2 separate regions of the Homo sapiens genome follow, and region 2 is linked to region 1. A link means that fine-mapping ties the variant in region 1 to the expression of a gene that starts in the linked region. Tissue or cell type: whole blood. Region 1 holds a variant in brackets; the other region holds the start of a gene. All regions are shown on one strand. Distances are from middle to middle.

Region 1 (11,778 bases):
AAAAATTTTTTTTTTTTTTTGAGACTGATTCTTGCTCTCTTACCCAGGCTGGAGTGCTGTGGCACAATATCAGCTCACTGCAACCTCCGCCTCCCGGATTCAAGCGATTCTCCTGTCTCAGCCTCCCAAGTAGCTGGGACTGCAGGCAAACACCACCATGCCCAGCTAATTTTTGTATTTTTAGTAGAGACGGGGTTTCACCATGTTGGCCAGGCTGGTCTTGAACTCCTGACCTCAAATGATCCACCCCCATCGGCCTCCCAAAGTGCTGGGATTACAGGCGTGAGCCACCGCACCCGGCCACAAAAAATAAATTTAAAATTAGCCAGGCTTGGTGATGTATGCCTGTGGTCCTCCTGGGAGGTTGAGGTGGGAGGGTGGCTTGACCTTGGGAGGTCGAGACTGCAGTGAGCTGTGATACCATCACTGCAATCCAGGCTTGGTGAGACAGCAAGACCCTGTCTCAAAAAGACAAAAAAAAGTTGATATATAAAACAACCTAGAAATTAGTAAGAATACAGAATAAAGAACACAAAATTTAAGTCTTTTTTTTTTTTTAAATAAAAAAGGGTTTCACTTTGTCACCCAGGCAGGAGTGCAGTGGCACAAATACAAAACACTATAGCCTCAACTTCCTGGGCTCAAGTGATTCTCCCGCCTCAGCCCCCCAGGTAGCTGAAGACCACAGGCATGCAGGCACGCACCATCACGTCTGGCTAATTTTTGTACTTTTTGTAGAGATGGGGTTTCGCCATGTTGGCCGGGCTGGTCTCGAACTCCTGACCTCAAGTGATCCACCCATCTCAGCCTCCTAAAGTGCTGGGATTACAGGTGTGAGCCACTGCACCTGGCCTAAAATCTCACTCTAAAGATATATACAGATCTCTCAACCCAACAAAGAGGGATTCAAAGAGTTAATATAGTATATAGAGAGTAACAGGATGGACTCAAAGAAACTAACTTCCAATCCTGGTTCTGCCATTTACTAGCTAAGCAAACCTTATACAAGTTACTTAATCACTTAAGTCTGGTTTTTCCTCTATAAAATAGGTATTAATTGAAAATTTTAAAATTTACCCCTATAATTTTGTAAGAAAATAAAATTACTAAGCATAGCAAGGACTTTCTCTGACCCAAGAATACTGTGTTTTCTAACAACATCTATGAAACATTACTAACAGGAGAACATGTTAGCTTTCAGTAGGGGAAAGCAAATCCTAGAACCAAAAATATTTAAGCAAATATTTATTTTTATTTTTTATTTTTGAGACAGAGTCTCACTCTGTCACCCAGGCTGGAGTGTAGTGGCACAGTCTTGGCTCACTGCAACCTCTGCCTCCTGGGTTCAAGCAGTTCTCCTGCCTCAGCCTCCCAAGTAGCTGGGATTACAGGCACGTGCTACCAAGCCTGGCTAATTTTTTTATTTTTAGTAGAGATGAGTTTTTGCCATGTTGGCCAGGCTGGTCTCAAACTCCTGGCCTCAGGTGATCCGCCCATTTCGGCCTCCTAAAGTGCTGGGATTACAGGAGTGAGCCACCGCACCTGGCCATAAGTAAATATTTTAGAACTCTCCTTTTAGTACATGAAATGAAATTCAAATTTATGATATACTTAATTACAAAAAAAGTCTAACTGCAATATAAAGGAGAAACAAAATGAAAGTAATTTGTAATATATATAAGTATGCAAACAAAACAATACTAGAAAACATAAAATATTCATAAGTAGAATCACTGACAGTGGCAGCTATGAACAAAATCTTCCATATATTCCCATAGGTTAAGAATGTCTGAGGGGTCAGGCGGTGCTGGCAAGATGGCTGCACTTGAGAAGATGACGTTTCCCAAGAAGATGACATTTCCAGAGAAACCAAGCCACAAAAAGTACAGGGCCGCCCTGAAGAAGGAGAAACGAAAGAAACGTCGGCAGGAACTTGCTCGACTGAGAGACTCAGGACTCTCACAGGAGGAGGAAGAGGACACTTTTATTGAAGAACAACAACTAGAAGAAGAGAAGCTATTGGAAAGAGAGAGGGAAAGATTACATGAGGAGTGGTTGCTGAGGGAGCAGAAGGCACAAGAAGAATTCAGAATAAAGAAGGAAAAGGAAGAGGCGGCTAAAAAATGGCTAGAAGAACAAGAGAGAAAGTTAAAGGAACAATGGAAAGAACAGCAGAGGAAAGAGAGAGAAGAGGAGGAGCAGAAACAACAGGAGAAGAAAGAAAAAGAGGAAGCTGTGCAGAAGATGCTGGATCAGGCTGAAAATGATTTAGAAAATAGTACCACATGGCAAAACCCAGAACCACCCGTGGATTTCAGAGTAATGGAGAAGGATCGAGCTAATTGTCCCTTCTACAGTAAAACAGGAGCTTGCAGATTTGGAGACAGATGTTCACGTAAACATAATTTCCCAACATCTAGTCCTACCCTTCTTATTAAGAGCATGTTTACAACGTTTGGAATGGAGCAGTGCAGGAGGGATGACTATGACCCTGACGCAAGCCTGGAGTACAGCGAGGAAGAAACCTACCAACAGTTCCTAGATTTCTATGAGGATGTGTTGCCCGAGTTCAAGAACGTGGGGAAAGTGATTCAGTTCAAGGTCAGCTGCAATTTGGAACCTCACCTGAGGGGCAATGTATATGTTCAGTACCAGTCGGAAGAAGAATGCCAAGCAGCCCTTTCTCTGTTTAACGGACGATGGTATGCAGGACGACAGCTGCAATGTGAATTCTGCCCAGTGACCCGGTGGAAAATGGCGATTTGTGGTTTATTTGAAATACAACAATGTCCAAGAGGAAAACACTGCAACTTTCTTCATGTGTTCAGAAATCCCAACAATGAATTCTGGGAAGCTAATAGAGACATCTACTTGTCTTCAGATCAGACTGGCTCCTCCTTTGGCAAGAACTCCGAGAGGAGGGAGAAGATGGGCCACCACGACCACTACTACAGCAGGCAGCGGGGAAGGAGAAACCCTAGTCCAGACCACACCTACAAAAGAAATGGGGAATCCGAGAGAAAAAAGAGTAGTCATAGGGGGAAGAAATCTCACAAACGCACATCAAAGAGTCGGGAGAGGCACAATTCACCAAGCAGAGGAAGAAATAGGCACCGCAGCTGGGACCAGGGCCGCCGGAGCCAGAGCCGCAGGAGCCACCGCAGCCGGAGCCAAAGTTCCTCTAGGTGCCGAAGTCGTGGGAGGAGGAAGTCGGGTAATAGAGACAGAACTGTTCAGAGTCCCCAATCCAAATAAACTAGTTTTGTTCTTAAAAAAAAAAAAAAAAAAAAAAAGAATGGACCAGGCCAGGTATAGTGGCTCACACCTGTAATCCCAGCACTTTAGGAGGCTGAGGTGGGTGGATCACTTGAGGTCAGGAGTTTGAGGCCAGCCTGGCCAACATGGCAAAACCCCATTTCTACTAAAAATACAAAAATTAGCCAGGTGTGGTGGCAGGCGTCTGTAATCCAAGCTACTTGGGAAGCTGAGGCAGGAGAATCGCTTGAATCTGGAAGGCGGAGGTTGCAGTGAGTCGACATCATGCCACTTCACTCCAGCCTGGGTGACAGAGCGAGACTGTGTCTCAAAAAATAGAATTTTTGGACTAGTGGAACTACACAGCCTGCTTTCCATATCAGACCATTCAATCCAATGGGATTCACTGCCATAATCTCCATGTTATGATTTTAAGCCAGGCCTCTCTTCACCTTTCCTATTCCTTACATTTAAAGACTCCAAAGCTTGTTTACTGAGCACAGATCTTGGAAAACAGGATCTTCAGACTTGGGAAAGCATGACAGTAGATGATGGAAAGGTAAAGACTCAGACTAGCATCTAGTAGTCTC[G/A]CTACACATGGATAGTAATGCTACGTGCATGAATGTGCAATCATGCAAAAACTCAAATCAGCCTTCTGCACACACACAATGGTAGACTAAGACCTTCTGTTAAAGGTCCAAGCACTCCAAGGAAGCCAGCGCCTTGAGGTACCCTCAGTATGTGCAAGTAGTTCGATGTTACTCTTAGTTTTCCCAGCAACTCTGCTCTAGCATGCCCTAAGTTTAGCCAGCAGCAGATCTTACTGAATTATAAGATGTTGCCAGAGGTTCAGAACCTTGGTTTTTTTGAGATACGCATTTGCATTGACCCAAAATGGAGAATTAAATGACTGTATTTTTCACTGGCATTAGCTTTGTTTCCTTGGCATAGTGCCAGTTAATTACAGCAGACCCTGCAAGACCACCTCTCTAGTTATTTCCCTGTGGAAGCCTTTTGGTTGGTTTTGTTTTTTTGGTTTTTTTTGTTTTTTTTTTTTTTTTGAGACGGAGTCTTGCTCTGTTGCCAGGCGGGAGTGCAGTGGCGTGATCAGCTCACTGCAACCTCCGCCTCCCAGATTCAAGTGATTCCCCTGCCTCAACCTCTCGAGTAGCTGGTACTACAGGCGCATGCCACCGTGCCCAGCTAATTTTTTGTATTTTAGTAGAGACAGGGTTTCACCATGTTGGCCAGGATGGTCTTGATCTGACCTCGTGATCTGCCCACCTTGGCCTCCTAATGTGCTTAGGATTATAGGCGTGAGCCACTGCACCCTGCTGCCTTTTGGTTTTTAATATCCAAAATTCATACAATGTTTTACTGTAGTTGCTTATATAGGAAAAGCTATACATCCCCAAAATGCAATACAACATTATGATATGCAGGAAATGTCTTGAGTAACATTTTTGACAGAATATCAGAATCCTTGGTGGACATTTTGAAGAATATGCAGAGCATCACAGGGGATGTGCTATGTATTCCTGCACACAGAGCAATTGTTACTTACTATATTAACTATTTGGAGAGCAGCAAGTGTTTTTAGCATCTAACATCCTAACATGATATTTGTTATATATAGGTATTTTGCTGTATTTTATTAATACTTAGTGAATTCGTTGAGTTTTACATTGACATGTAATACATTAAAATTTTTCCCACTTAAAATAGTGGAAAATAAGCTTCTGCATAGAATGTATTCCTACATAGAATATCTGATTTTCAGAAATGGATTATCAAGAGAGAGACAGATGTCCATATTAAAACCAGAGCATTAAGGTGAAGTGAAAATGACTCATTGGATTAAGAATCAGGAGAGGTGGGGCTGGGCGCAGTGGCTTACGCCTGTAATCCCAGCACTTTAGGAGGCCGAGGCAGGTGGATCACGAGGTCAGGAGTTCGAGACCATCCTGGCCAACATGGTGAAACCCTGTCTCTACTAAAATTAGAAAAAAAATAGCCGGGCATTGTGGTGGGCACCCGTAGTCCCAGCCACTCAGGAGGCTGAGGCAGGAGAATCACTGGAACCCAGGAGGCGGAGGTTACAGTGAGCTGAGATTGCGCCACTGCACTCCAGCCTGGCGACAGAGCGAGACTCTGTCTCAAAAAAAAAAAAAAAAAAAAATCAGGAGAGGTGGGGTGTGTTTTATGACTTTAGGCAAATCAACCTAAGAGACAGTTTTCTCTTCTGCAGAGTTTTAGGAAAGTCACAAATTAATGTACTTGAAGAAAGTGTACAATAGAATAGTAGTATTACCAAATCCTAAAGTTCTTATTGTGGAAAATCTCTGAAATATTACCTGCCTATGTAGATGCCAACCCTTCAGCAATCCAGACAAGCTTATTATCTTTTCTGGATGAATTAAGTGTCCACAGTTTTGTACCTCTTCAATGTGATTACTTTGTAGGCTAGACTGCAGACTGTTAATTGACTACTTTCTGGTACCCTCTAGCTATTGTCTTGAGACAGTAAAATAATTACTGCTCTCTAGCTACATCCTTAGCATTTTCCTGTTCTGAAATGAAATCATTTTCTTATGTTAAAAATAAAGTTAATTACTGTTCAACTCCCAAGGTGATATTCAGCTGCCACCTCTTACAACCCTCTCTTCTTAATCTGTGTAACTATTCTACAGCCCAGGAATAGCCTGAGTTTATTAAAGTCACCCACACAGATCTGGCTCTTTTCAATCAAGCTGCCCTCAAAGTGCCAGCTGATGATACTCCCAAGGAGACTCACAAGCCCACTGCTGCCTGCAGTTCAGACAGAGTCCATGCTATTTTAACTGGACTCTTGGCACTATTAGCACTGACACAATGACTCCTTAAATTACGAATTACAACAGGCCATTCTATTCCGTCTGTGCTTCTAATGCTGTCACCATGTGATTTTCCCCCAGAAGAGATATTTCCCAGGTAGGGGTATGCTTAACATGCAGTTACGGAACTGAGAGTTAATGTCAGAAGAAAGCTTTTGCAGTGTAGCCACAGAATAGTTACAGGCTACATTGCTCAGCATGCACAAATAAAAGCTTAAAAGAACGTGTTAAAGGAAAGATTTCCCTGTCTTTTTAGCCTCCTACGAACATTAAGAAGAAAAATGTTGCGAGGCACAGTGGCTTACGCCTGTAATCCTAGCACTCTGGGAGGCTGAGGTGTCCAAGAGGATCACCTGAGGTCAGGAGTTTGAGACCAGCCTGGCCAACATGGTGAAACCCCATCTCTACTAAAAATACAAAATTTGCCTAGCGTGGTGGTGGGCACCTGTAATCCCAGCTACTTGGGAGGCTGAGGCAGGAGAATTGCTTGAATGCGGGAAGTACAGGTTGCAGTGAGCAGAGATCACGCCACTTCACTCCACTCCAGCCTGAGTGAAATAGCGAAACTCCATCTCAAAAAAAAGAAAAAAGAAAAGAAAAATGTTATATTCTCTGTCAATGGGTGAAATAGCACAGGTGACAATTCAGGTCAGGACCTAATCTTGCCAGAGTTTACTCAACCTTGTTCTAAAAATAAATCTAGCCAGGCCTGGTGGCTCACGCCTGTAATTGCAGCACTTCGGGAGGCTGAGGTGGGTGGATCACAAGGTCAGGAGTTGAGACCAGCCTGGCCAACATGGTGAAACCCCGTCTCTACTAAAAATACAAAAATTAGCCGGGCGTGGTTGTGCACCTGTAGTCCCAGCTACTCGGGAGGCTGAGACAGGAGAATCACTTGAACCTGGGAAAGAGGTTACAGTGAGCAGAGGTCACGCCACTGCACTCCAGCCTGGGCGACAGAGCAAGACTCCGTCTCAAAAAAAGTAAAGTAAATCTAGAAAATGATTTAAATGAAGGTAAACAGAGGATACAAAGATATTAATTGCAGCATTATGTATAATCGCATGACAAATGTCCTCAATGTCTTTCAATTGGGAAGTAGGTAAATTATCAATAACATTAGATAGCTATGTCAAAAAATACTGAATAACATGAGAAAATACTCAGAATACTGTGTTAATTGAAAAAAGCAAGACACAGAATTATATATCATATGTGATCTAAGCCACACATATGTTAAGACAGCAATACATACATATATATATACACATACACACAGAGTTCTGTTTTTATTTATATACACAGACCAATATATTTGCACATTTTAAAAAATAGGAAGACTACTCTAAGATGTAGGATTACAAATGTTATTTTCCTCCCTACATAAAACACATCCCATCACACACACACACACACACACACACACACACACACACACACACAAATGTAAACAGTAGGACAACAAGGACTTTGTTTTATTCGCCAAAGTATCTCCCAGATGTAGAACAGAATCTGGCACATGGAGGTTCTAAATAAATCTGCTGAATAAAGGAATGAGCATATGTAAATTTCATAATCAAGAAAAAAAGCTTTTAAATTTATTTTTAAACCCTCTTGCTCAAGGCCAGATGTCAGAGCAAAGCTCAGAATATGCATGATCCAATTTCTACCTAAATACATCATATATTATCTTCTCAACTAAGCTTTGATGCCAAGCCATTGGCTCCTTTTATTTTCCTCCAATCTTATCAGCTGCTTTAGAAAAATGAAAATAAAGCCAACAATATTAACTCTGCAAAAAATAAAATATTAAACATGTCCTCGGGCTGGGAGCAGTGGCTCACACCTGTAATCCCAGCATTTTGAGAGGCCGAGGCGGGCAGATCACTTGAGGTCAGGAGTTTGAGACCAGCCTGGCAAACACGGCGAAACCCCATCTCTACTAAAAATACAAAAATTAGCTGGGTGTGGTGGTGCGTGCCTGTAATCCCAGCTACTTGGGAGGCTGTGGCAGGAGAATCGCTGGAACTGGAGAGGCAGTGGTTGCAGTGAGCCAAGATGGCACCACTGCACTCCAGCCTGGGTGACAGAGCAACACTCTGTCCCAAAAAACAAAAAACAAAACAAACCCATGTCCTTACTTGTAAGTCTCTTTCCCACACTTCCAGTCAGCATGCGATTGCAACAGCATAGGTAAGATGGATTCTAGTCCCTAAAATTCAATACTCTCCTGAACCTTCTCCTACAGACGAGACTCTGCAATTCAGAGGCCTCTTCTCAGTCTGTTCACTAGGTCATTCAGAGTATGCCACTAATGTAGGAAGAAAGTATTTTGATTGACAGCATCATGAATGTTTAATCCTTTCAAGTATGTTATCTATTTGGAATGTATGCAATAAATTCACTTTCATGAACACTATGATGCCATGCAGCTGGAGACTACTAATGGATGCACATTCATTTTACCATTAGGGAAGAAAGTCTGCTACAAAGCAATATTTTAAATGAACTTCAAAACCAAATATAAATGATTCAGTGACTACCATTTATTTTGGATCTTCTCTCTACCTCTCTGTGAACTCCATTAGCAGAGGTGATTAGGAGTAGGCTAGAAGTCAAGCTTGCTCACATTTGGAAGTCTGAGGTCAGAACTACTGCAAGTAGTTCTGCTGACAAGATAGTGTTCACTGCCACAAGCAAGTGGGCCCAAAGCAAAAGCCAATTTCTTTCCACTAAAGACTACTGTGAGGTCCCTACGATTAGATGGATCTTATTAAGGGCTTTAAAATTATCTGAAGTTTAAATTATGTCATGTCCAAATTAAAGATTGTAAGAATATTTTTATAAATGTTAAATGACTTTGAATAATAAAAACAAAAAAATCCAATCTTTGAAATCAACTCTTTCCACAGACCAATTTTTATTTTCTTCCATCAGTTTTGAAAGGAAAATTCTTAATTGCCTTACAAGGCATTCTGTGGTGAAGTCATTCAAAAATATAAAAGAATCTATACTGAGCATGTTTTCATTTAATTTTTTAAACTTTAAAAGACACTCACTTCATATAGTGTCTTGTCTTTTTTCTTTTTTAACCATAAATGGTGTGATACTGTATTTAATGTTCTATTACTTTTTTTCTTTTTCGAGACAGGGTCTCACTCTGTCACCCAGGCTAGAGTGCAGTTGGGTGATCATTGCTTATTGTAGCCTTGAACTCCTGGGCTCAAACCATCCTCCCACCTCAGCCTCCTGAGCAGATGGGACCACAGGCATGCACCACCATGCCTGGCATTTGTTTTTTGGTTTTCGGTTTTTTTTTTTTTGGTCAACATGCTGTGATCTGGGAGCCTGGTTAATTTTTAAATTTGTGTGTGTGGAGACAGGGTCTCACCATGTTGCCCAGGATGGTGTCAAACTCCTGGCCTCAAGCAGTCCTTCTGCCTTGGCCTCCGAGTATGCTGGGATTACAGGCAAAAGCTAGCACAACTGTCCTGTATAACTTTTCATAATTACTAAATTATGCAAAAATTTCTGGGTCTGTACATATGGATCTATTTCATTCCATTTAACTGTATGGATATACTATTAATTGAATGAACCATTTACCTGCTGATGGACATTTCTGTTTATAATGTTTACATTATGCAGTTCATATTATATACAGTTGACAACAAAAAATGCTGCCATGAATATCTTTGTGCAGCTCTTTAATGCACAGTGACTATTTCCTTAGAATTGTTAAGAGTATCATTTTTCAATTCAACAAGAAATGGTTAAAAGGTCCCTTAAAAAGGTTATTCAAGTTTATACCACTAGGCTGTTAAGTATCCCTTATGTGAAATGCTTGGGACTAAAAGTGTTTCGGGTTTCACATTTATTCAGATTTTGGAATATGTACATTATACCAACTGAGCATACCAAATCAGAAACTCTAAAATCTAAATGCTCCAATGAGCATTTCCTTTGATCATTATGTGGGCACTCAAAAAGTTTGGGGTTTTAAAGCATTTAGGATTTCCAATTTCAGATGTTCAGCCTGTACCATTACATGTCCATTTCCCTATACATTCACCAATACCAGATATTTTCAATCTTTAAAATATCTGCCAGTTTAATGAACAAAATATGGGATTTCACTATTTTAACTCACACTTCCCACATCACTGGTGAGCTGTTTACTAGCCATTCATATTTTTTCTCTTCCGTGAAATACTTAACTTAGAACCTTTTCCCATTTTCTTTTTCTTTTTACTTATGGAAATTGTTATGTATTCTGGATATTCCTTATTTGGTGTAAATGTTGTAAATCTATCTTCCTAGTCTGTCATTATTTTAACTTTGTTTATGCTGCCCACTGTCATATAGAAATTTAATTTTTAGAAATTTTTAGTTGAATTTATCAAATCTTTTTCTTTGAAACTTTTGTATTTTGTCTTGCTTCTATACCTCAAAGTTAAAAAATATTGTCCTCTACTTTTTTCTAAAACAGAGGTTTTGGCATAAAAGTCCTGTCTTTGCAAATCACTCAGGAAAACAGGTGGACACTAACTAAAGGCAGTTACTTCCCTACCCCTCCTGCTCCAACCCCTAGAGCTGTGAACTATAACCCAGGATCACTTCCTTTTGATGCTGCTTTGCTGGGGTAGAAGGGGACTGTACAGTGAAGCTTTGACCTGAGGAGCTCTTCTGTAGGTGAAGAGTGGTTAACTATGGTTCCTGTGTGCCTGGGGCCCCCCACTCCTAGGACTCATCCACCCCCTACCCAGAACTTACTAGTACTAGCATGGACTGGGGCCCCCTCCATTCCAGTGCCTGATGGGATAGCTGATACTCATGGATGAAAAGCAGTTTGTAGGCTAAAATAAAAAGATATTTTAAGAATATATTTCTTTTTTTTTTTTTAGAGATGGAGTCTGGCTCTGTTGCCTAGGCTGGAGTGCAGTAGTGTGATCTCGGTTCACTGCAACCTCTGCATCCCAGATTCAAGCAGTTCTCCTGCCTCACCTCCTGAGTAGCTGGGACTACAGGTGCACTCTGCCACACCCAGCTAATTTCGTTTGTATTTTAGTAGAGACAGGGTTTCACCGTGTTGCCCAGGCTGGTCTCGAACTCCTGAGCTCAGGCCATCTGCCCGCCTCGGCCTCCCAAAGTGCTAGAATTGCAGGCATGAGCCACCACGCCTGGCCAAGAGTACATTTCAAAAGAAAAACAACACAATCAACTACAAGTTTTGGTCAGGAGCAACAATATTAGAACTGCTGACCAAGAATTTTAAACTGGGGAGCGGTAACCATACTAAAAGAAATGAGAAAATATTAGCAATATGAAACAAGGACAAGAAGAAGAGAGCCAAGCAAAAACATTAGGTGTGAACAATATAATAGTTGAAATGAAGAACACGGTATATAGCAGGAATAACAGAATGGTTATAATGTAATCATGGAGTACAGTTGAAAATTAGATGGTCAGATTGAGTCCGGGCACGGTGGCTCACGCCTGTAATCCCAGCACTTTGGGAGGCCGAGGTGGGTGGATTGCTTAAGGTCAGGAGTTCGAGAGCACCCTGGCCAACATGGTGAAACTCTTTCTCTACCAAAAAAAATACAAAAATTGACCAGGCGTGGTGGCACATGCCTGTAATCCCAGCTAC
Region 2 (11,778 bases), 27 kb after region 1:
TTAGACAGAGATATGTACATATCTGTTAAATAAAATGCTACACAGATTTCAGGAGTCATACAAAGAGCTAAATGCAATATAACTCTTTACACCAGCAGCAAAAGTTTAAAATGGGCTTGTGAGGACACACAGAAACTAAAATGACACATTACTGAACTGGGTATGAGATTTCAAAAGTGTTGTTAAAGATTAAATATATAGTGCTGGACTCTCGTCTTGAACTCCTGGCCTCAAGCAATCCCTCTGCCTCAGCACCCCAAAGTGCTGAGATTACAGATGTGGGCCATCATGCCCCGCCCCCTAAACATATTTAATCTTTCTAACATTGGCACTAAAATATGCCTAAATGTGCTTTACATTCCTGTGTAGTTCCAGACCAAGCCTGGCCTCTGTGTGACCTTGGGAAACACACTCCACCTTTCTCTGTCCCTGAATTGTCATTTTAAAACTAAAGGAACTGGACTACCTGTTTGATCTTTAAGGCCCAACTCTGATAGTCCCAGGAAGGTGGCAGCCCAAGTCTTAAGGAAAATATGAAATAAAAAGAGGAAAAGTAATAGACATTTTTATAGAATTTTAAGCAAAAAAGTTACTGGGTAGGACAGAAAGCAAACCTTCCCCTTTCCTTAAATAGAAGATAAAGTCTGAGTTTGCCTCACAATTCCATTTGTACAAAGGAGCAAGTACAGGACTAGGGCCCTGGCTCACTAGCGCCCACCCTGGAGGGACTGCACCAGGAGGACTTACTCACATATGAGGGTGCAGCACAGCATACACCCTCCAGAGGACTCTTATTTGTGCAATCCCATTAGAAGCAGGGCTGCACCAGACATTAAAGGCCATATATTGTATGATTCCGTCTACATGAAATGCTCAGAATAGGCAAACTCATAGAAACAGAATGCAGATTAGTGGTTTCCAGGGGCTGGGTAGGAGGAATAGGGAGTGATTGGTGATGGTTTCCCTTTGGGGTGATAAAAATGTTTTGGAATTAGACAGTGGTGATGGTTACACAACTCTGAACATACTAGCCACTGAACTGCATACTTTAAAAGTGTACAATTTATAAGTATCTAAATTATATCTTAGCAATGGGGGGAGGTCTATCTTTATAATAAACATTTCCAGTAGTCTGCCTCCTGTTATCAGTAAAAGAGGGAAGTAAGGAGATTAAGGTAATTATGTCAACAGTTCTTGATGAAAGGAAGGCTGGAATTAGATTCCGAATTGCCTATATAAGATGGCCAAAAATTCTAGAAACTAGAAGTCAGAGATGAAAGACCCTGTTCTCAAAGAGCTCAAAGGGAAATTATGCACACGGAAAGAACAACCAGTAGGAAGAGGGGTATACAATAAGGTACTGGTTGCTCCCCAGTGAGCACTGGGCAAGTCTTCAACCATCTACATGCTCCAACGTGCAGCAGACCCTGACCAGGAGCCAGGTGCACCTGAGCTTCACTCACAGACTTCCAAAGGGAGTCCAAAGGGAGAAAAGCTAGGAAGCCAAGTGAGCTTTTCCCAATTTCATCTTTGCATCCTGCAGTCTCTTGACCCAATACTGACACTACTCCCCTTCTTGTGATGGCCCAAGGAGAGGAAACAGCAAGAGAAAGGCTGAAAGGTGAGAAAGGAAGGAAGTAAATTACTGGCAATAGTTTGGCAAGATCGCGAACTCCTTACAGAGGTCACAGCAGCCAAAGTGACCTTAAAATATAAATCGTATCATGTCACCCCCTATTTAAAACCCATCCAAGGCAATCAGAAAATGCAAACTCCCTACCACCATCTGGAATGAAATGCACACTTCTACCACTGACCCTACCTGCTGGCACCTGCACCTCTCTGGTGCCTCCCCCACCACTCTTTGCTCACACAGAGCTAAGCTGTGTGCTGCCTCAGGGCCTGACACACTCTTCTCCCTCTCCCTGGCTCTGCTCTTGGCTGGCCCCTTCTCATTCCTCAGGTCTTCTCTACCAGAACTGTTTATTTACTTTAGAGGGCTTACCACACGGTCACTACTTTGCCTATTTCTTGCCTGGGTAGACTGCTCATTCAACAAGGACAGAGAGTATGACTACCTTATTTCTTGCCATATCTAAAGTGCTACCACAGTGCCACACATGTGACTGGCATTTGATTTTTGCTAAATAGATGAACCTGTATTTTAAAAAATAACTCTGGCTAGGGAGCATAAGAGTTACAAGAGGTATGGAGAATAGTTAAAATGAAGGTGACTGCTATGGTCTGAATGTTGTGTTCCCCCAACATCCATATGTTGGGACCTAATACCCAATGTATTAGTATTAAATAGTGGTGCCTTTAGGAGGCAATTAAGACATGAGGGCTTGGCCAGGTGTGGTAGCTCACGCCTGTAATCCCAGTACTTTGGGAGGCTGAGACAGGTGGATCACCTGAGGTCAGGAGTTCAAGATCAGCCTGGCTAACATGGCAAAACCGCATCTCTACTAAAAATACTAAAATTACTCAGGCGTGGTGGCACACGCCTGTAATCCCAGCTACTAGGGAGGCTGAGGCAGGAGAATTGCTTGAATTTGGCGGGGGTGGGGGCGGCCAGGGATGGCGGTTGCAGTGAACTGAGATTACGACACTGCACTCCAGCCTGGGCAATATAGAGCGAGACTCTGTCTCAAAAGAAAAGAAACAGGCATGAGAGCTCTGCCCTCATGCATGGGATTCGTGTCCTTATAAAAGAGGCTTGAGGGAGCCAGTTGACCCTTCTACCATGTGAGGAAGCAGTGAGAAGATGCCATCTTTGAAGCAGGGAGCAAGCCCTCACCGGACACCAAATCTGCTGGTGCCTTGGTCCTGGATTTCCCAGCCTCCAGAACTGTGAGCAATAAATTTCTATTGTTTATAAATTATCCAGTCTAAGGTATTTTGTTATAGCAGCCCAAGCAGACTAAGACAGTGTTCACAGGTCACACTTTAAGCAACATGGATTTTGATGCTACTAAAGACCACCATTTTCAAATACTTTTTCTTTCTTTTGGACAATTATACAATCATATTGGTTATGCAATGAACAGACTTGATTAGACTAATGTAACACCGACCGCCTGAATATTTGCTCACGGGGGTCTGTATGCTTTATTCTGTGCACACAATCCCGTTTTTCCTTGAGTCTCCTCCATAAAGCAGAGCCCGGGGTAGGCCTCAGGGCTATATGTAGCTAGACTTTCTGGAGTATGACTAAGTGTCTGTACCGGACTAACACAGTAACAACTACTAGGTAACTGCAATTTAATTGCTCAAATCAGAACTAACTTCTAAAACATGTTTCTTCCCTTATAGTCATAGACTAAATTCTAGCCTAACTAGTGACAGATACAAGCTGTAATAATGTGTTATCTGTGTCTTAGCCTCCTAGGTGAAAATTTTTTCTTCCTTTATTTTTATCCCTATGGTTGAAGAAAGTAGCAGAGACCAACTGAATGAAGGTAAAAACCACTGGCTTTCTTAGGAAGAACTGTAGAGCAAAACAAAATTCATTTCTGGAGAGGAATAATTCCTACTTGAACGAATGGAAAAATAAAATCGTAGAATTAAAAAAAATAAACACATTGTAGAATAAAAACAACTTTGGTAATAAATTCAGATCCTAATCGTAAAAATTCATTTTTTAAGTAGCTCAATTATATAAATGACTCACTTATATAACCAAGGAGCTATATCATGGAGCATTTTTAAAGGTTTTTGTTTTTACACTAGGGTAAGCATTTCCCAAGTTTGTCTGTAACATGTGGCTTTTTCAAAATAAAAGAAAATGAGAAAATTCTCCCTACTGTCTCAATTAACGTAATTATGAATTAAGGAAGACCTAATTGATAGGGTTTTACTCTCTAGGTGCATAAATATATGGTGAAATACTCATTAAAATAATTACTAGACAGAAGTGCTCAGCTCCCTGTACCTTCTGAGATCCTCCCACCAGTAAAGGGAGGACGACAGAGTGGTAGCGCTTTCCTGTTAGTGTGCCAAAGAGAGGGGACACTGGTCACCAGGATAATCTAATGAAAATACCTCTGGGCTAATCGTCAAGAGATAGGGATTAAGTTAAGGTTCCAAAATGGTGAATACTATCCCCACCCCTTATGTCCAACCTCATCCCTCCCCGCCGAGCTTTCACTTTTCTCCCGGGAATTGCGGATGTGCAGTCTACTGCAGCAGCCCTGCGGGGAGGAATGGAGGAAGGGAAGGGGACGGCTGCAGGGTGTGTCACTTACGAGATGTAGGCTGGGTAGCCAAATCCTATCAGGTTGCAGAGGAGAGAGGCTCCATAACCGAACACCAGGTACAAGGCCACCAGTCCGATGACACCTGGGGACCACAAGGAGAGAAGTGGGTCGGGCAGCATGAGAGCCGTTCACGCGGGACAGCCGCCGCCCACACCGCGAGGCTGGGCCTGTTGTAGGAGTTTTCCTCTCGACTCGATTAAAGGAGCGAGAAAAACAAACCACACGAAAGCTGGGCCTGCGCGTCCGCTGGGCTATGCCTTGAAGTCTGGGGATACCAGGCAGCCCCACCATTGTGCCTCTCCTACCTCCCGCAGGGGGCCCCGGCGCTTTGCGCAGCAACCCCCGGCGCCCGGGACGGTCCCAGGCACCCGCTTCCGCCCTCTCGCAGGGCCTGCTGGGCAGCGCTCCAGCCTGGGAAGCTGCGCTCAGCGGGGAGCGTCCCGAGAGGCCCGGACTCCCGCACACGCTGCAGTAGCAGCCCCCGCCCACCCGAGAGGCGCCCTCTCCGGGCGGAGCTCCACGGAGGGTCGGGTAGGACCGGGTACCTCCGTCAACGCGCCCGCCCGCAGGGGCCCCGCCGTCCGCGCCCACCGCGCAGGACAGCAGGAATAGGGCGCCGGGCCGCGGGGCAGACATACGTCAGCGCTGGCCCTTCCAGCTGCCAGCGCCCGGCGCCGCAGCTGCCCTCCAGCCCCGCGACCCTCAGCCTGGGCAGCCCCCGCGGGGTCCTCCGATGCCCACGCTTTCCGGGAGGCCAGCCTGATCCCTGAATATGCTGCTTGTCCCGTCTGTCTCCGACTCCACCTTTCCCGAGTCCTCTCCCTGCTTCCTTCCCCAGCAGCTGGGGCAGCGGCGGCTCCCGTGGCCCTACCAGCGGCGGCGACCCCCGGCCACCCACCAAGAGCGATGAAGCTCCTGTTCACGCCGGTTTTGGCCTCGAGCTTGGCCAGAAGGTCAGTCATGCAGTTCTTCTCGTGCAGGAACCGGTCGAACCTCTCCCTCATGGCCGCAGACATGGCGGGGACCGTCTCGCCGCTCGGGGCTGTTCCTAGTGCCGGATAGACTGGAGCGGCGACTGCGGCGGAGCAGCGGCAGGCGGGGACCGCGGCGCGTCTACGCGTCCTCCACTCGCCTCCGCTCGCCCCGCCCGGCCGCCGCGCGCCCCTCCTCGGCCGCCGCGCGCCCCTCCTCCCCCGCCCAGCGCCAGGGGGACAGCGCCACACCCTGGCGGGGGCGGGCCTGCAACTCCGCGGACGCTGCGAGGTGGCCTGCCTGTTGACAGTCTTAACCCATTGCGGGGTAAAAAGGATGTGGCGTGGGGGCGTGCATTTTGTGTCTCTCGTGGGTCCCCTTCTCAAATCGGACTATTGCAAAAAGCAGGCAGAAAGGAGGCAGGCGTCCTTGTTGCTCCCGCCTGCAATTCACTGCGATGAGTTTGGCACCTACATTGCTGTGCTAAACCTAAGGCATTTTTGACCTAAAAAATTGAAATGTTTGAGCATCGTGAAAGAACTCTTTGGAAGCAGTCCTGCTTTCTCCCTCTTTGCCTTAACTTGGCAGTTTTTCTCACCTACAGACAATCGTTGCCTTGTAAAGACCCTTGAAGAAATCTAACACATCCTCCCTGGGGTACACCTTTTCCAAGCAAAAACTGCATTAAATCTTTTCATGGTGGGCTTGCGTTGTCTTGGTGTCTGATACTGTGGCAAGTGTCCAAATTCTCTCTGTGGAGCCAATATACTCTGCACTTCCTACAGTCAAAATACTCTGAAGAAGACGGAGATTCTAAGGTCCAAGCCTTAGGGCAGGAGCTCATTTTTGCTTCCTTCAGAATGAGTTGGCCATGCTCTTCCTCCACCTAAACCTAGGCTCCTCTTATCTCACCCATATGACTTCCAGACACTCCTAAAATTACTCTTGTTGACTCCTATTCTGCACACTGCTGCAGAATTTTTGTCCGAAGCTCCGTATTATTATCCTAACAGACTAGAGCTCCCATTCCTTGGCAGAGCATTCAATGCCCTGCCCACAACTGGCCCCGAACATTCTGTCTTGGTCCTACACAACCCCTCTGTGCTTTCAAATCTACTTAATTACCCTACTGCCTTCCACTTCTGCAAAAAGTTATCTTGCCCACGCCTAGCTTTTTCCTTTTATGCTAATTCTCCTTCCTCCTTTCTTCCTCAGAGCTTCTTAGCTCAGCTTTCTCAGCTGTTCCTACCACCACCCAGCCAAATCAGTGAACAAGTGAAACAACCTGCTGTCTACTTCTGTCTTTTCACCTACAGTTAATTCTCAATGTGGCAGACAGTAGAATCTGTTTTAAAATGTGCGTCAAGTTGTGCTATGTTTTTGTTCTCAACCCTCCAGCAACTTCCTATCTGCCTGAAGGAGGGCATCAGGGTCACAGGTGACATGGTTCATCCCTCCCCTTTCTGATGTCTTCCCTTACTGCCTCCCTCCTTGCTGTGCCTCAGACAAGGTAAGCCCATTCCTGCCTCTGGGCGTTCGTTCACTTTTCTTCTATTTCAGTGGTTCTCAACCAGGAGCACTTCCTCTCCCCTTCTTCCTCCTGGGGGGAGGAGTAGCAATGTCTAGAGATACTTTCGTTGTGAAACAGATTGTCACACAAGGAGAGCAGGAGGTGGCAAGTGCAACTAGCATCTAGTGGTTAGAGACTAGGGGTGCTGCTAAACATCCTGTAACACACAGGACAGCCCCCACAACAAAGAATTATCCAGCCCCAAATGTCAATAATGTGACAGTCCAGAAACCCTCCTCTATCTGAAAGTATCTTTCCCCAGTTAACCATTTAACTGTCCCCTTCCATTATTCAGATATTTGTTCAAATGGTACCCCTAATCTCAAATTGCAACCCCCAGTGGTCTCTAGCTTGATTTTTCTCCATAGAATTTATTACTGTCTGGCATTATGTTCTACTTTTTTTTTTTTTTTTTTGAGACTGTCTCACTCTGTCACGCAGGCTGGAGTACAGAGGCGTGGTCACAGCTCACCGCAGCCTCGACCTCCTGCTGTGCTCAAGCCATCCTCCCACCTCAGCCTCCCAAGTAGCTGGGACCATAGCCGTGTGCCACCATGTCCGGCTAATTTTTTCTGTTTTTAGTATAGATGGGGTTTCACTATGTTACCCAGGCCAGTCTTGAACTCTGTGATCTGCCCACCTTGGCCTCCCAAAGTTCTGGGATTACAGGTATGAGCCACCACCATGCCAGACCATGTTCTATTTTTAAATTATCTTTCTTTCCTCACTAGATTATGAGCTCCGTGAGGGTAGACATTTTTGCTTATTTTATTTGCTTCAATATTTTAAGCACATTGAACAGTGCCTGGCACTTAGTAGTTGTTCAATAACTATTTGTTGAATTAATGAATGAATGAATATCTAACATGTGTTGTACCACCCAGTATTCCAAGTGTTACGTGGACTAGTTCATTTAATCCTCACAGCTGCATGAGGAAGATGCTACCTGTTTCATCCTCATTTAAGGAAAAAAAAAATGAGACATAGTGAGTTCCCATATCACAATAAGTGGCAGAGCTAGAATTCAGAATCAGGCTCTTACCCCTATATTACATTGCTATTATGGGTTGAATTGTATTCTACCTCCCTAAAGAAGACATGTTGGAATCCTAACCTACAGTACCTCAGAGTGTGATCTTATTTGGTAATAGGGTCTTCAAAGAGGTAGTCAAATTCAAATGAACTCCTTAGGGTGGACCTCAATCCAGTGTGACTGTTGTCCTTATAAAATGGGAAATTTGGCCAGGCGCGGTGGCTCACACCTGTAATCCTAGCACTTTGGAGGCCGAGGCAGGTGGATTACGAGGTCAGGAGATCGAGACTATCCTTGCTAACACGGTGAAACCCCATTTCTACTAAAAATACAAAAAATTAGCCGGGCGTGGTGGCGTGCACCTGTTGTCCCAGATACTCAAGAGGCTGAGGCAGGAGAATGGTGTGAACCCAGAAGGCAGAGCTTGCAGTGAGCCGAGATCAAGCCAATGCACTCCGGCCTGGGCAACAGAGCGAGACTCTGTCTCAAAAAAAAAAGGGGGGGTGAAATTTGGACGGAGACAGATGCATATAAAGGGAAGACTGTGAAGAAACACAGGGAGAAGATGGCCATCTACAAGCCAAGAAGAAAGTCCTGGAACAGATCATTCCCTCACAACCCTCACAAGGAACCAATCCTGCTGAGACCTTGATCTTGGACTTCCAGCCTCCAGAGCTGTGAGATAATAAATTTCTGTTTTATTTATTTATTTAGAGACAGGGTCTCACTGGGTCACCCAGGCTGGACTGCAGTGACACAATCTCCACTCACTGCAACCTCCACCTCCCAGGTTCAGGCAATTCTTCCACCTCAGCCTCCCAAGTAGCTGGGGCTACAGGTGTGTGCCACCATGCCAAGCTAATTTTTTTTTTTTTTGTAGAGATGGGGTTTCACCACACTGGCCAAACTGGTCTCAAACTCCTGACCTCAAGTGATCTCCCCATCTTGGCCTCCCAAAGTGCTGGGACTGCAGGCATGAGCCACTGCACCTGGCCTCAATTTCTATTATTTAAGCTACCCAGTTTGTGAGACTGTTACAGCAGCCCTAGGAAACTAGTACAGCTGCTTAGCAGAATAACTGAACTGTAAACTTCAAACCAGTTGTGAGTTTGTATAATTTCCTACTGAGTACAGTATGTATATTAAGTTGGGGTTGTTTTTGAATACTTAAAGTGATTCATAATTTGATTTTTTTTTTTTTTTTGAGATGGAGTCTGCCTCTGTCACCCAGACTGGAGTCCAGTGGCATGATCTTGGCTCACCGCAACCTCAGCCTCCCAGGTTCAAATGATTCTCGTGCATCAGCCTCCTGAGTAACTGGGACTACAGGTGCACACCACCACGCCTGGCTAATTTTTGTATTTTTTTGTAGAGATGGGGTTTCACCATGTTGGCCAGGCTGGTCTTGAACTCCTGACCTCAAGTGATCTGCCTGCCTCAGCCTCCCAAAGTGCTGGGATTACAGGTGGCCACAGTGCCGGTCCTGATTTTTTTTTTTTTTTTTTTTTTTTTTTAGACAAGGTTTGACTGTATCACCCAGGCTGAAGTGCAGTGCACAATGTTGGCTCACTGACCTCCACCTCCTGGGCTTACGCCATCCTCCCACCTCAGCCTTCCAAGTAGCTGGGACTACAGGTGTGCACCACCACACCCAGCTAATTCTTGTACTTTTTTGTAGAGATGGAGTTTTGCCATGTTGCCCAGGCTGGCCTCAAACTTGTGAGCTCAAGTGATCCGCCCATCTCAGCCTCCCAAAGTGCTAGGATTACAGGCATGAGCCGCTACACCCAGCCTCACAATTTGATTGTTTTATTTATTATTTATTTATTTTAGCAAAGGAGCAAAATCCTTTTAAGTTAGGTATCCAAATCAACCTAGGTTTTTGTCACTACATTTCATGCAGTGGCAACATTTGTACTACATTAACTATGCATGGAATATCTAGAAACATATTGTTCATTTGCATTTCTTCCTTTCTTCCTTTTTTTTTAATTTTTTTATTTTTCAAGACAGGATCTTACTCTGTTGTCCTGGCTGGAGTGCAGCGGCACCATCATGGCTCACTGGAGCCCTGACCTCTTGGGCTCAAGCAATCCTCCCACCTTGACCCCACAAAGTGCTGGGATTATAGATGTGAGCCACTGTGCCCAGCCCTTGGCTTTCTTTCTGTAAATATTGCTCTTTTCAATTTTCTCTTGACATAGATTCCAAATTTCTTCTTTCTTCAAGCATTCAACCAATGGTGAGGCAAAGCAGTATAGTGAGGCATAGTGTGGAGTTCTATCTCTGGATTCAGTCTGTATGAGCTAAATCCCAGCTCTACCATTTAGCTATGTGACTTTGGGCAAGTTGCATAAGCTCTCTGTGCTTCTGGTCTCTCATCTGTAAAACAAGGATAAAAATAGTACCTATTTCACAGAGTTCTCATCATGGTTAGGTGAGTTACTATTTGTAATGTTTTTAGAAGAGTACTTGATGCAAAATAAGTGTTTAAATAATTTAAGAAAGAAAAAAAACACAGCTAGGTGTAATTTTTTTTTTTTTTTTTTTTTTTTTTTTGAGACAAGGTCTGGCTCTGTCACCGAGACGGGAGTGCAGTGGTGTAATCTCAGCTCACTGCAACCTTTGCCTCCTAGGCTCAAGCCATCCTCTCACCTCAGCCTCCCAAGTAGCTGGGACTACACGCACATGCCTCCAAGCCTGGCTAATTTTTGTATTTTTTGTAGAGATGGCATTTCACCATGTTGCTCAGGCTGATCTTGAACTCCTGAGCTCAAGCAATCCTCCCACCTCAGGCTGCCAAGGTGCTGGGATTACAGGAGTGAGCCATCATGCCCAGCCTCTAAAATTGAGATAGAGAAATATTACATTATTCTTGACTTTAGTAAATTACAATCAGATTCGGGGAGTATGGGATCCTAGTTTATCCCATCAGCACTGTAAACCTTAGATTCTTTCATAGCAGAGGAAAGAGATGCAGAAAATAAGAACCCAGAACCCTGCCTAAGGTCTCAAACTATTCACTTACTCATATTTACTAAATATATCCTGTGTGCCAGATGCTGTTAGATCTGGGAACTAGATAGATGAGATCTGTTTTGGAGGCTGTGAAGAAGGTTGGCCTGGAACCGGTTGACACTGGCAATTTTTTTTTTTTTTGTCCCCCAGGCTGGAGTGCAGTGGCGCAATCTTGGCTCACTGAAAGCTCTGCCACCTGGGATCATGCCATTCTCCTGCCTCAGCCTACTGAGTAGCTGGGACTACAGGCACCCGCCACCACACCCGGCTAATTTTTTTTTTTTTTGTATTTTTAGTAGAGATGGGGTTTTGCCGTGTTAGACGGGATGGTCTCGATCTCCTAACCTTGTGATCCGCCCGCCTCAGCCTGCCAAAGTGCTGGGATTACAGGCATGAGCTACTGCACCTGGCCAACTTTGGCAGTTTCTAAGGAGGAAGTTGAACTGACTTGGGATGAGGCAAATACTATTATTATACCCTCTGTGAGCTAGAGAAGAAAATTCTGCTGGAGAACTCAGATCAGGTCACTTTTGTTCTACACAAACTGTTTCTTCAGGGTAAGAAAACAAGTTGAAGTCATCAAACACATTTGTTCTTACTCATGTTAGGAAGAAGAGGTACAGCATAATTTGTCAGGTAATCTCTTCCTTCCTTTCCCCCACCCCTGCATTTGTAGGGTACCCTGGTATGGCACCAATGAGACAGGCAGGAGACCCTCAGCCCCTGCAGACACAGCCCTGTTGGCACATACACCCTCCCTCTGCTGCAGGAGGCTTATGATGACATGTCATCAGAATAAAAAGGGAAAAAGACAGAGTAAACAAAACCTGAGACACGGACTTGCCAGACGATGGGAGGAAAATGTAGAGTCTGAATGTAATTTAAGAAAGAGCATTGAAGGAAATAAAATGTGAAAATCACCATGTTTC

What was found. PIP is the estimated chance that this variant, and not a neighbour inherited with it, causes the effect.
Region 2: REEP5 starts here. The variant in region 1 is the best candidate, but not a certain one, in a credible set for the expression of REEP5 in whole blood (TOPMed, PIP 0.55).

What each region holds. Positions count from the first base shown.
Region 1 is chr5:112,889,825-112,901,602 of GRCh38, forward strand. All of the region lies in intron 3 of REEP5 (receptor accessory protein 5), which reads right to left. It also overlaps a transcript of SRP19 not described here and the pseudogene ZRSR2P1. Among named protein-coding and RNA genes, the nearest start is that of REEP5, 27 kb to the right of the region's middle. RefSeq lists an enhancer at 1,433-2,632 and a silencer at 6,995-7,044. The variant G/A (reference allele first, on the strand shown) is at 3,846.
Region 2 is chr5:112,916,919-112,928,696 of GRCh38, forward strand. It overlaps REEP5 (receptor accessory protein 5), which reads right to left and starts at 5,309. Exons shown (of 5, transcript NM_005669.5): 1 at 5,155-5,309; 2 at 4,245-4,338. The coding sequence starts at 5,272. It overlaps LOC105379123 (a long non-coding RNA gene), which reads left to right and starts at 5,469. Exons shown (of 3, transcript XR_948675.3): 1 at 5,469-6,738. RefSeq lists silencers at 4,500-4,949, 5,310-5,579 and an enhancer at 6,712-6,831.